Linked DNA regions of Homo sapiens. The protein of the gene in region 1 purifies or fractionates together with the protein of each later gene. This does not show direct contact. Each region holds a gene or a part of one and is shown on either strand. Other genes may lie near its edges.

Region 1 (3,651 bases):
TGCCTCAGCCTCCCAAGCAGCTGGGATTACAGGCATGCGCCATCACGCCCGGCTAATTTTGTTTTTTTAGTAGAGACGGGGTTTCACCATGTTGGTCAGGCTGGTCTCGAACTCCCGACCTCAGGTGATCCACCCACCTCAGCCTCCCACAGTGCTGGGATTACAGGCGTGAGCCATCACACCCGACCCACTCTTATTCCTTCTAAGCCTTGATAAAATCTCAGTTTAGTGGGACAAAGTGGCTCACGCCTGTAATCCCAGCACTTTGGGAGGCTGAGGAGGATGAATTGCTTGAGTCTAGGAGTTCAAGTCCAGCCTGGGCAACATAGCAAGTCCTCGTCTCTAAGAGAGAAAAAATAAAATTCTCATTAATATAGTGTTTAGTTTAAAAAAATAAAATAGACAAAGCCTTAGCTGGTATTAACTTGCTCTAACGGCTTCCAGACACTTGCGCATCTCCCGTGTTCCCAAATCGATGGCCGACGCAGGGCCCCACATCAGCTGGGCTTCGGCGTGAGGTCTTGCTCTTATGGAAAAAAAATCTTTCTTTTTCTTTTTAGATGGAGTCTCACTCTGTCGCTGGGCTGGAGTGCAGTGGCGCAATCTCTGCTCACTGAAACCTCTGTCTCCCGGGTTCAAGCGATTCTCATGCCTCAGCCTCCCGAGTAGCTGGGATTACAGGCACGTGCCAGCATGCCCGGTTATTTTTTGTATTTTTTAGTAGAGACAGGGTTTCACCACATTAGCCAGGCTGGTCTCGAACTCCTGACCTCAGGCAGTCCGCCCGCCTTGGCCTCCCAAAGTTCTGGGATTACAGGCATGAGCCATGGTGCCCGGCCTATGGAAAATTTTAAAGTCATTTTCTGTTGGTGATGTGTGCGCCAGCTTTCCTTTACTTGATGAGACTGAGTGTCCCTTCCTGCAGATCACATGAGGCAGAGCAAAAACAAAAACAAACAAAAAAAGAAGTAGAGACTGAGTGTCTTTGGAAATCAATGTAAGTTTCTTTAAAAACGATATAAAGACAGTAATGGCTGGGTATGTTGGCTCACACCTGTAATCCCAGAACTTTGGGAGGCTGAGGCGGGCAGATCATGAGGTTAAGAGTTCAAGACCAGCATGGCCAACATGGTGATACCCTGTCTCTACTAAAAATACAAAAAATTAACTGGACATGGTGGAGTGTGCCTGTAATCCCAGCTACTCGGGAGGCTAAGGCAGGAGAATTGCTTGAACCAGGACCTGGGAGGTGGAGGTTGCAGTGAGCTGAGATTGCACCACTGCACTCCAGCCTGGGCTACAGAGCGAGACACTGTCTCAAAAAAAAAAAAAAAAATTAACCAGGCATGATGGCATGCACCTGTAGTCCCAGCTACTTGGGAGGCTGAGGCAGGAGGACTGCTTGAGCCGAGGAGTTCAAGGCTGCAGTGAGCTATGATCACGCCACTGCACTCCAACCTGGGTGACAGAGGAAGACCCTGCCTCTAAAACGTTTTTTAAATGGCAAATATTAAGTAAATCTTGGTCCAGGAGCTATGTGGCTGAATATGGCAAAAATTGCAATGGGAAGAGCTTTTTTTAAAAAAGATTTTATTATTTATTTTATTATTATTATTATTATTATTATTATTATTATTATTTTGAGATGGAGTCTCACTCTGCCACCCACGCTGGAGTACACTGGTGTGATCTCAGCTCACTGCAACCTCCACCTCCCAGGTTCAAGCAATTCTCCTGCCTCAGCCTCCCGAGTAGCTGGGATTACAGGTGCCCGCCACCAGCCTGGGTGATTTTTTTTGTATTTTTAGTAGAGATGGCGTTTCACCATGTTTACTAGGCTGGTCTTGAACTCCTGATCTCAGGTGATCTGCCCGCCTCAGCCTCCTAAAGTGCGAGGATTACAGGCTGGGCCACCACACCTGGCCAAGATTTTATTTTTATTTTTAATTTTAATTTTTTTTTTTTTTTGAGACGGAGTCTTGCTCTGTCACCCAGGCTGGAGTGCAGTGGCACGATCTCGGCTCACTGCAAGCTCTGCCTCCCGGGTTCACGCCATTCTCCTGCCTCAGCCTCCTGAGTAGCTGGGACTACAGGTGGCCACCACCACGCCCGGTTAATTTTTTGTATTTTTAGTAGAGGCGGGGTTTCACTGTGTTAGCCAGGATGGTCTCGATCTCCTCATCTCGTGATCCGCCTGCCTCGGCCTCCCAAAGTGCTGGGATTACAGGTGTGAGTCACAGCGCCCGGCCCTTTTTTTTTTTTTTTTTTTGAGACAGAGTCTCGCTCTGTTTTCCAGGCTGGAGTGCAATGGTGCCATCTCGGCTCACTGTAACCTCTGCCTCCCAGGTTCAAGTGATTCTCCTACTTCAGCCTCCCGAGTAGCTGGGATTAAAGGCATGCACCACCACACCCGGCTAATTTTTGTATTTTTAGTAGAGACGGCGTTTCGCCATGTTGGCCAGGCTGGTCTTAAACTCCTGACCTCAGGTGATCCGCCCACCTCCGTCTCCCAAAGTGCTAGGATTACAGGTATGAGCCACTGCGCCTGGCATTATTTTCTTAATCTTTTTTATTTTTTGAGAGAGTCTTGCTGTGTTGCCCAGGCTGCAGTGCAGTGGTGTGATCTTGGCTCACTGCAACTCCCACCTCCTGGGTTCAAGCAATTCTCATGCCTCAGCCTCCCAAGTAGCTGGGATTACAGACATGCATCACCAGGCCCGGCTAACTTTTGTATTTATAGTAGAAATGAGTTTTCACCACATTGGCCAGGCTGGTTTTGAACTCCTAGCCTCAAATGATCCCTCCACCTCGGCCTCCCAAAGTGCTGGGATTACAGGCATGAGCCACCGCGCCCGGCCGTATGGGCTTAAGATGGGAGTCCAGCCCTGGCTCTGAGCTGGACACGTGGTTAATGTTGTTCAAGTTCACTGTTAACGCCTCTGATGATTCGTGTGTCCATTCGAGCCGTATTTATTGAGCAGCTGCTGGTAACCGGGCATGGTGCTGGGTGCTGGGAACAAGGCACAGAAACCCGCTGCCCTCATGGGGCTCACAGTCTAGTGGGAGAGATGGATAATAAATTAGATGAACGGGTCACTCAAGGGTCCTTTGGTGATGGGCGAGACAGAGAAAGGGGCAGGAAGCGTAAGAAGGTTGGAACTTTCTACCAGAGACAGGGCAGGCTACACCGAGGAGGTGATATTGAAGCAGAGACCCAGAGGAGGTGAGGGAGGAGCCATGGGGGGATCCCAGGAAGGGTGCACCAGACAGAGGACACAGCCAGGGCAAAGGCCCCAAGGTGGGACCGTGCCTTGTGTGTTTGAGGGAAGAGGCCGGTGTGGCTGGAGTGGAGTGATGGAGGGGAACGGGAGGAGGAGGTGAGGGCAGGGAAGTGATGGGAGCTGATCAAGCCCTGCCTGTGGCTGCTGTGAGGACCTGAGCAGACGGGGGATGTGCATGACCCAGTTCAAGCATCCACAAGTTCCTCTGGTCACTGTTGGGGAACAGACTACGGGACAAAGAGCTGGGGACCAGGACAGAGGGATGTGCATTGACCCAGTTCAAGCAAAGATGGAGCCTTGCAGGCTGGCAGCAGGGACAAGAGCTGGGTAAATGCTGGTTGAGGATGGAGTCTGGGGCCAGGGCCAGGGC
Region 2 (3,651 bases), on another chromosome or scaffold:
TTTGCTTATTTCATTTAGGTAACTAATCTCCTTTGTATTCGTCAGATAATTTTGATTTAATTTTGCCAGAATTTCTAGGTATTGATTTAGTTTTTAAAATGCTAACTTCAAGTTAGGTAAGTTCTGGAGCACTTCAGAATTGAGAGAGCTCTTCTCACCTGTACAGTCTCTCTTGCTCTTCACATCCACCCCAATAGAGGAGTCTTACTGTTTTCCCTTCCCAACACGTGATTAATTCATTGATTCTCAAAAAGGTTAAGTGACTTACCCAATGTCACCCATTCATGTACTTGGTAAACATTTTCCCTTCCCGACAGATGATTAATTCATTGATTCTCAAAAAGGTTAAGTGACTTACCCAATGTCACCCATTCATGTACTTGGTAAACACTAATGTTATTTTATAATAGTATATATTTAATAATAGTAATCATAATATAGCTAACATTTATTGAGCACTTATTATGTGTAAGGCACTGTTTTAGGCACTTTACATGTATTAGCTCATTTAATCTCCATAACAGCCCTATGATAAAGATGCTATTTAAAGCCTACTCTGATGAATCACTTTGCTAATTTCTAAGGCTGCATAAATGATAATGAAGAGGTAGCTGCCCTTAGGAACTGACAGTTAATATTAAACAGTTAACTAATACAGGGCCATATGTACATCATAGATTTATGTGCACAGTGCTATGAGAACACAGAGGAGGAGGACCTGGCTCTGAAGGGACCAAAAACCATTCTTTTTCATTCTTTTTTTTTTTTTTTTTTTTTTTTTTTTTTTTTTTTTTTTTAGACGGAGTCTCACTCTGTCACCCAGGCTAGAGAACAATGGCGTGAACTCAGCTCACTGCAACCTCCGCCTTCCGGGTTTAAGCAGTTCTCTGCCTCAGCCTGCCAAGTAGCTGGGATTACAGGTACCTGCCACCACACCCGGTTAATTTTTGTGTTTTTAGTGGAGACGGGGTTTCACCATCTTGGCCAGGCTGGTCTTGAACTCCTGACCTTGTGATCCACCCACCTCAGCCTCCCAAAGTGCTGGGATTACAGGTGTGAGCCACTGTGCCCGGCCCAAAAACCATTCTTATGACTTATTGCATTCACGTAATTCATTCATTCATTCATTGAAGGCCTACTGTGGGCCAGGTATTATGCTAGGCCCTTGGAATATGATGAGGACTCCTGGGCCAAGGCTGTTTATTTTTTTATTGTTGTTTGTTTGTTTGTTTGTTTGTGACAGAGCCTGGCTCTGTTGGCCCAGGCTGGAGTGCAATGGCACGATCTCGGCTTATTGCAGCCTCCACCAAGGCTGTTTCTAACATACTACACTGTCTCTCTGAAGGCACAGCCAGACTTTAAGGGAACTCTTGGTTTTAAAATAATCTGGTTTTGTTTATACTTTATTATCGTCTACTAGCCTGGGACCAAATTCTTTGAAAAATTTTCCCCAATGCCTCTAATTTAGAATCATATTAGAAATAAACTAAGATCCTATAATATAAAAGCCTATATATGTGGAATCAGTCATATCTAGGAAAATCAAATAATAGAATAAAGACTGAATACATTCATTATTTTTAAGGCAAGTGAAATATTGAGGTTGACTGAAATGAGTCACTGTTACTTCTCATAAATAGATTAATCGTAAATTTAAAGTTAGTTAAAAATAGTGATAAAAGATTTTAATAGCAAATTATAAGTAAGCACTGATTAAATGGATTATATCAATGTTTTATTAAACCTTGCTCTGAAAATAGTACTTATGACATAAAGTTTGATTAACATACTAGATTCAGATTTGATTATGGATGGGTGTAATCATTGTTACGGAGAGGTACCGTGGTGCAGTAGTTAAGAACAAGGACTTTGGAGTCAGACGGATGACATGGTAATTGTGGTACTTAACCTCTGTTATCCTTGGTATCTTTGTCTATGGAATGGAGTAATAAAAGCTATCTCAGAGAATTATGAATATGATAATCTTAAAGGAACCAAGGTCGCATTATTAAATTTTACTATCATTTAATTTCCAGATGAAAATAATTCTCAGAAACAAAACTTCTATTGAGTCATGGATTGAAGAGAAGGTAAATTTTAATAATTGTTTCTTCAATATTAAAAAAGTATATTAATAAAGGACTGGTAAAGTCCTGAATATTAATAAAGTCTGTTATTAGACCGGATTAACGAAAAGTGCCTAAAAGTGAAAACATGGCTGCCAAATGGCTACCGTAAGTCATTTGCATGCCACATAAAAGGTGAATATAGGAAACATTTTTGTTCATTCTGTAACTCCCACAGAAAGGTGCTTCTCATACACCCTGAGTGGTCGCAGAGGCCTAAGCCACACGTCAAACCATCTGTTTGTTGTCTCTTAGACTAGAGGAGAAAGCAGCCCATTTGGAAAGGAGCTTCCACCCTACCAAACTGCCATCAGGTTTTTCTCAGTGTTTTAGACATTCAATGAAGCTCCTAACATTTTGCTTGTCACAGACCTCACAATGTCCAATACTTCATACTGTCCATTGTGATTCTAGCATGAAACACAAATCTGACTACCCTGCTCTGTGTTTAAAACTTCTCAGAGCCTCACCATTCCTGTGGCAGGGGTTGAAACCCAAATACCTGCAGGGTCTGGGCAGATAACGTCCATGAAGGGGAGCAAGCCTGTATACCAAAGAATTGCCTGGCAGACCAAGCTGATTGTTGCCACAGGGGAATATTCACAATTTCCAAATTACAAAATAGGGAGAAGAATAGCATCGTTTTATATCTTTACAAATCTCTTTAGTATCTTTGACTTAAGAGAAGATGGTTGGATTCTCACTTCTGCATTCAGTCTGTTGAGATATGTTGCTTCGATTGAAGTATGTGAAGATCTAGCCTCACACAGATAAGTAGGTAGAAAAGGATAGAATATTTTAATAGGCCTTTTACATGATAATAGTGGATGTTCTTCCGTATTACATTGAAAACTTGACAAGTGATATTTCTTATCAATAAGATTTTTATACCTTTTTATTTTAAAACTCATCAGTCTATCTTGCTCTTTGAATTAATCTTTTACCAGTATGTGGTTTTATGTAACATCAGGCATCGGTCATTTGGCAAATACTAGTTTACTGTGTTATGTAGATTTTGCAAACGTTAAACACCTTTCATTATACAATATCCCAAAATTGCATTCACGTATATCAATATATCATTTTTATGAGAAAAAATCCTTAAGTATTGGAAAGCTGTCAGGCTCACAGTGGTAGATACAAGGTTTTTTTTTTTGTAATTCTAGTATACATTTGAAAGCCTTAATTTTTTACTATTAACCCATACTGTCAGTCATTTCCCTTGAAGTGACTGCCTGACTGTTCGTTTTTGAGAAAATGTTCACCAAGTCCTGAAGTCTGAATAACCTTAGTTTGCTATATTACTCATTCTTTCAAATAAGAATAGTGTTACATTAAAAAAGCTGGCTCTACAGCTTTTGTTAGCTTACAGCTTAACAACTATTTTCCTTGAGATGATCATTCTACTTGGGCACGCTTTATGTATACTTCTCATTTTGTCACACAGACTGTTAAAAATAAAGGACATCTCCTTGAGAGTTGAGATTTAATATTTAAAAACAATTTTTACTGCTTCATCAAGGAC
Region 3 (3,746 bases), on another chromosome or scaffold:
CACAGAGGTGTTTCAGTTCCCAACACACAGGGGCATACTTTGGGCTTGGAGAGCCGCTCAGCCCTGGGCACGGGGGGACACCCTGTTGGTGGACACCTGGGTTGGCACATATGTCAAGGTCAGTGACTAAATTCAGTCAATTATAATGGAAAGCTAAAATATCCAAACCCAGCCTGGGCAATACAGTGAGACCTCATTTCTACAAACCAACCAACCAACCAAAACAAAAAAAAAGCGGCCGGGCGCGGTGGCTCACACCTGTAATTCCAGCACTTTTGGGAGGCTGAGGCCGGGAGTTCGAGCCCAGCCTGGCCAACATGGTGAAACCCCGTCTCTACTAAAAATACAAAAATTAGCTGGGCGTGGTGGCAGGTGCCTGTAATCCCAGCTACTCAGGAGGCTGAGGCAGAAGAATTGCTTGAAGACGGAGGTTCCAGTGAGCCGAGATCGCGCCACTGAACTCCAGCCTGGGGGAAAGAGCAAAACTGTCTCAAAAAAAAAAAAAAAAAAAAAAAAAAGCCCAATGTGGGGGCTGTTCTGTATTCCCATTTAGATTTATTACGGAAGCAAAAACAATAAAAGCAACACTCCCGTCCGCAACACACACAAAGACCGGCATCAGATTTATTATTATCTCTTGTTAAATATTTTCGATCTTTTCTCAGAACATGGTCTAGAAGGGCATAGTAGTTTTTTTCCCGGTACATGCGTGGGTGGGTAGTGAGGAGAAGGGAGCAGAGGTGCGCGCCAGGAGCCAGGCTGGTTCTCTGCAGAGAACAACCTCCAGATCCTCCCAGGGAAGCCTGACACGCCAGTCCCACGTTGGACGACGTGCAGAGGAAGGGGGAGGTCCACGGGGACGACGAAGATGACCTTATACGTGCACTCGGCATATCCTGGAGTAACGCGCAGTGGGGGAGGTGGGGAGGGGAGGGTCGGCCGGGCAAGCCCCTGCCCGCTGCGCGGCGCCTGTCCTGCAAGCGTCTGGTGCGTGGGTTTGGGGGGTCAGGGTGGTGGTCAGTCTCCGTGGTCCTAACGTGGGGATGTGGCTCTTTCTCCTGGTGAGATGGTTGGGCACTGTGAGCTGGGATAGGGGTCCTGAGCAGAATGCCTCCAGCCTTCAGGGGATCTCTCGGCTGCTCCTCTGGGAGGGCGGCATTCTGACCAGCCAGGGTGCTGATGTCAGGCACAGGGCAGGAAAAGGCTGAAGGCAGGTCCCCAGAATGTCCACTGAGTGCTGGGTGGCACAGGGCAATGCTGGGTGGTCCTTTGTGCCAGCCCCGAGCCTTCCTGAGTGGATCCCACAGTGTTCATCTCTCATGAGCTGGTTCACGGCTTGGGAGGGGCCGCAGGTGGCAGATCCGGGCTCTAAAGGGAAGAACCAGACCGGCAGCTCCAGACCCAGGCTCCTCGGAGTCTGGGCCAGGTGGGAGAGCAAGGGCCTTCTCCAGAGGCACTGACTGCTCTGCTGGCCTTGACCTGGGGCGGGGGTCAGAGTCATCTAGACTCAGTACAGCTGTCCCTGGGCGCCTTCCAGGCTGAATTCGGAAAGCAAATTCTTCTCAGCAGCTCTAACAGTCTGTGAAGTTCTGTTGAAAAAGACTTGCAGGATGGCTCTCAACACCCAGGCGCAGGTGTGCGGGCTGCCTCTGTGTTGCCAGCGTATAATACTGTCATACTGGTGGCCACCCCAGGGGCTAGTTGGCTGTTTGGTCAGGCCCAGAAGAGGACCCTGCAAATGCCTTCTTTGAGATGGAAACACAGCCCCTCCCTTCAACTGTGCAGGGGTGGGTGAGGCCAGCCAGCCCTCGTGGGGAGAGTAGCTGTGTGCCTGAGGAGGAAAGGGCGTTTGGGAGACCTCTGCTCTCGTATGCCTTAACCTCCAACACTGTGTGACTCCCAGACCCACAGATTCCTCGTGGGAAAACAGGGACCAGGCCACCACCCAGTGTGATGAAAGGAGGTCGCCAAAGAGACATTCCCATGGAAGTGCTGGCCCCGGGACCAGCACCTGCGGATGCTGAACTAAATGACATCTGAATCTCAGGGGGAGGGGCCGGGGCAGCTGGAGCGTGGCCCTGGCCAGTCGTGGTGACGGAATTCCGGGAGCCTTGGGCCTGGAGTCCTGCTCTTCCTAGCTGGGAAGTCTGCAGAGAGGGAAGAGGACACTCCTGTGCCACCAGAGTTCAACCAGATGAGTTCCCAGCCTGGGCCTCCAGCCCTCTGCCCGCCCTGCCGGGCCTGAACCCCCAAGTGCTGGGGGTCTTGTCCGATGCTGCTTAGTAGCTGTTGTCTGTGAAGAAAGTCACGCGGGCAGACGGGGAGCAGTGGTCCTCCTCGCTTGGCTCCGACAGCTCCCCATACTCGCTGTTGTAAAACACCTGGCCTCCTCGGGCCCCCCGCTCAGGCCGCCGCCGCCTCCCTTGGGAGTCAGGGTGTGCCCTGGTCACAGCCACATTCTGGCCAGGTCCTTTACAGCTGCCAAGACAGGGAAGGTGGTGTTAGTAAGAGAAGAAGGCTGGGTGGCGGGTGGTGCATACTGGTAATCCCAGTACTTGGGAGGCCTAGGCAGGCGGATGGCTTCAGGCCAGGAGTTAGAGTCCAGCCCAGGCAACATGGGGAAACCCCGTCTCTACAAAAAATACAAAAATTAGCCAGGCATGGTGGTGCACGCCTGCGGTCCCAGCTAAGTGAAACAATTGCTTGAGGCCGGGTGCGGTGGCTCATGCCTGTAATCCCAGCACTTTGCTGGGAGACCGAGGCGGGCGGATCACGAGGTCAGGAGATCGAGACCATCCTGGCTAACACGGTGAAACCCCGTCTCTACTAAAAATACAAAACATTAGCCGGGCGTGGTGGCGGGCGCCTGTAGTCCCAGCTACTCGGGAGGCTGAGGCAGGAGAATGGCGTGAACCCGGGAGGCGGAGCTTGCAGTGAGCTGAGATCGCACCACTGCACTCCAGCCTGGGCGACAGAGTGAGACTCCATCTTAAAAAAAAAAAAAATTGCTTGAGCCCAGGAGGTGGAGGTTTCAGTGAGCCAAGATCGTGCCGCTGCACTCCAGCCTGGGTGACAAAGTGAGACCCTGTCTCAAAAACAAACTAACAAAAAACAAGGAGGGACTGGAGCCCTGTCAGGGTCTGATGGGAACCACCAAGGACACAGTGGAGCATGGCATGCGTTCAGACTTCAGAAAACACACACAGACTCGACTCAAACAGCAAAGCGGATCGATCTGATCCAGCACTCACTGGAGCTCTGTCCCTACCTAGCCTGGACCCGAGACTGTGAAGAATGTCCAACTTCATCCCCCAACCCAGTTCTCACTCTGTCTTGCCCATCTCAGTGAACGGCACCACCGTCCCCTCAGCCGCTCAAGCCAAGCACCCTGGGGTTCTCCTTGCTTCCTCCTTCCCCTCACTCTTCAAAGCCAATCCATCCAGAAGTCCTGTCCATTCTAACTCCAGGACACATCCGTGCATCTCCATTCCTGGCCCTCCTGCGGAGCCAGCTGTGTCCTTGCCGGCTCTGTGACATCCTCCCGCGGACTGCTGTGTGCTTCCACCCTGGCCTCCTGGTGGTCCACCCTTCAGAGAGGTCCTTCAAGTTACACTATGTCATTCTCCTCCTGACACGCCCTCCAACGGCTTCCCGTCACTCCACGAAGCAAATCCAGGCCTCTCGCCTTGACCTAGGGGGTGGTTTCTGCCCCTGCCCTCCTCTCTGCCTGCCCTATCATGCACCAT

Evidence for each region.
Region 2: the proteins of PLVAP (region 1) and ZDHHC6 purify together in Homo sapiens (affinity purification with mass spectrometry; 3 studies listed by BioGRID and IntAct, with this or other methods). This does not show direct contact.
Region 3: the proteins of PLVAP (region 1) and FLT4 purify together in Homo sapiens (affinity purification with mass spectrometry, with the first as the bait; one large-scale study listed by BioGRID). This does not show direct contact.

Annotation. Positions count from the first base shown.
Region 1 is NC_000019.10:17,353,215-17,356,865, reverse strand, and holds part of PLVAP (plasmalemma vesicle-associated protein), read left to right. Parts: intron 1-3,651. UniProt on the Homo sapiens protein: Endothelial cell-specific membrane protein involved in the formation of the diaphragms that bridge endothelial fenestrae. It is also required for the formation of stomata of caveolae and transendothelial channels.
Region 2 is NC_000010.11:112,436,775-112,440,425, reverse strand, and holds part of ZDHHC6 (palmitoyltransferase ZDHHC6), read left to right. Parts: intron 1-773; exon of another isoform or gene 774-920; intron 921-2,036; coding exon 2,037-2,090; intron 2,091-3,651. UniProt on the Homo sapiens protein: Endoplasmic reticulum palmitoyl acyltransferase that mediates palmitoylation of proteins such as AMFR, CALX, ITPR1 and TFRC.
Region 3 is NC_000005.10:180,600,913-180,604,658, forward strand, and holds the end of FLT4 (vascular endothelial growth factor receptor 3 isoform 1 precursor), read right to left. Parts: intron 2,479-3,746; coding exon 2,280-2,478; 3' UTR 594-2,279; downstream 1-593. UniProt on the Homo sapiens protein: Tyrosine-protein kinase that acts as a cell-surface receptor for VEGFC and VEGFD, and plays an essential role in adult lymphangiogenesis and in the development of the vascular network and the cardiovascular system during embryonic development.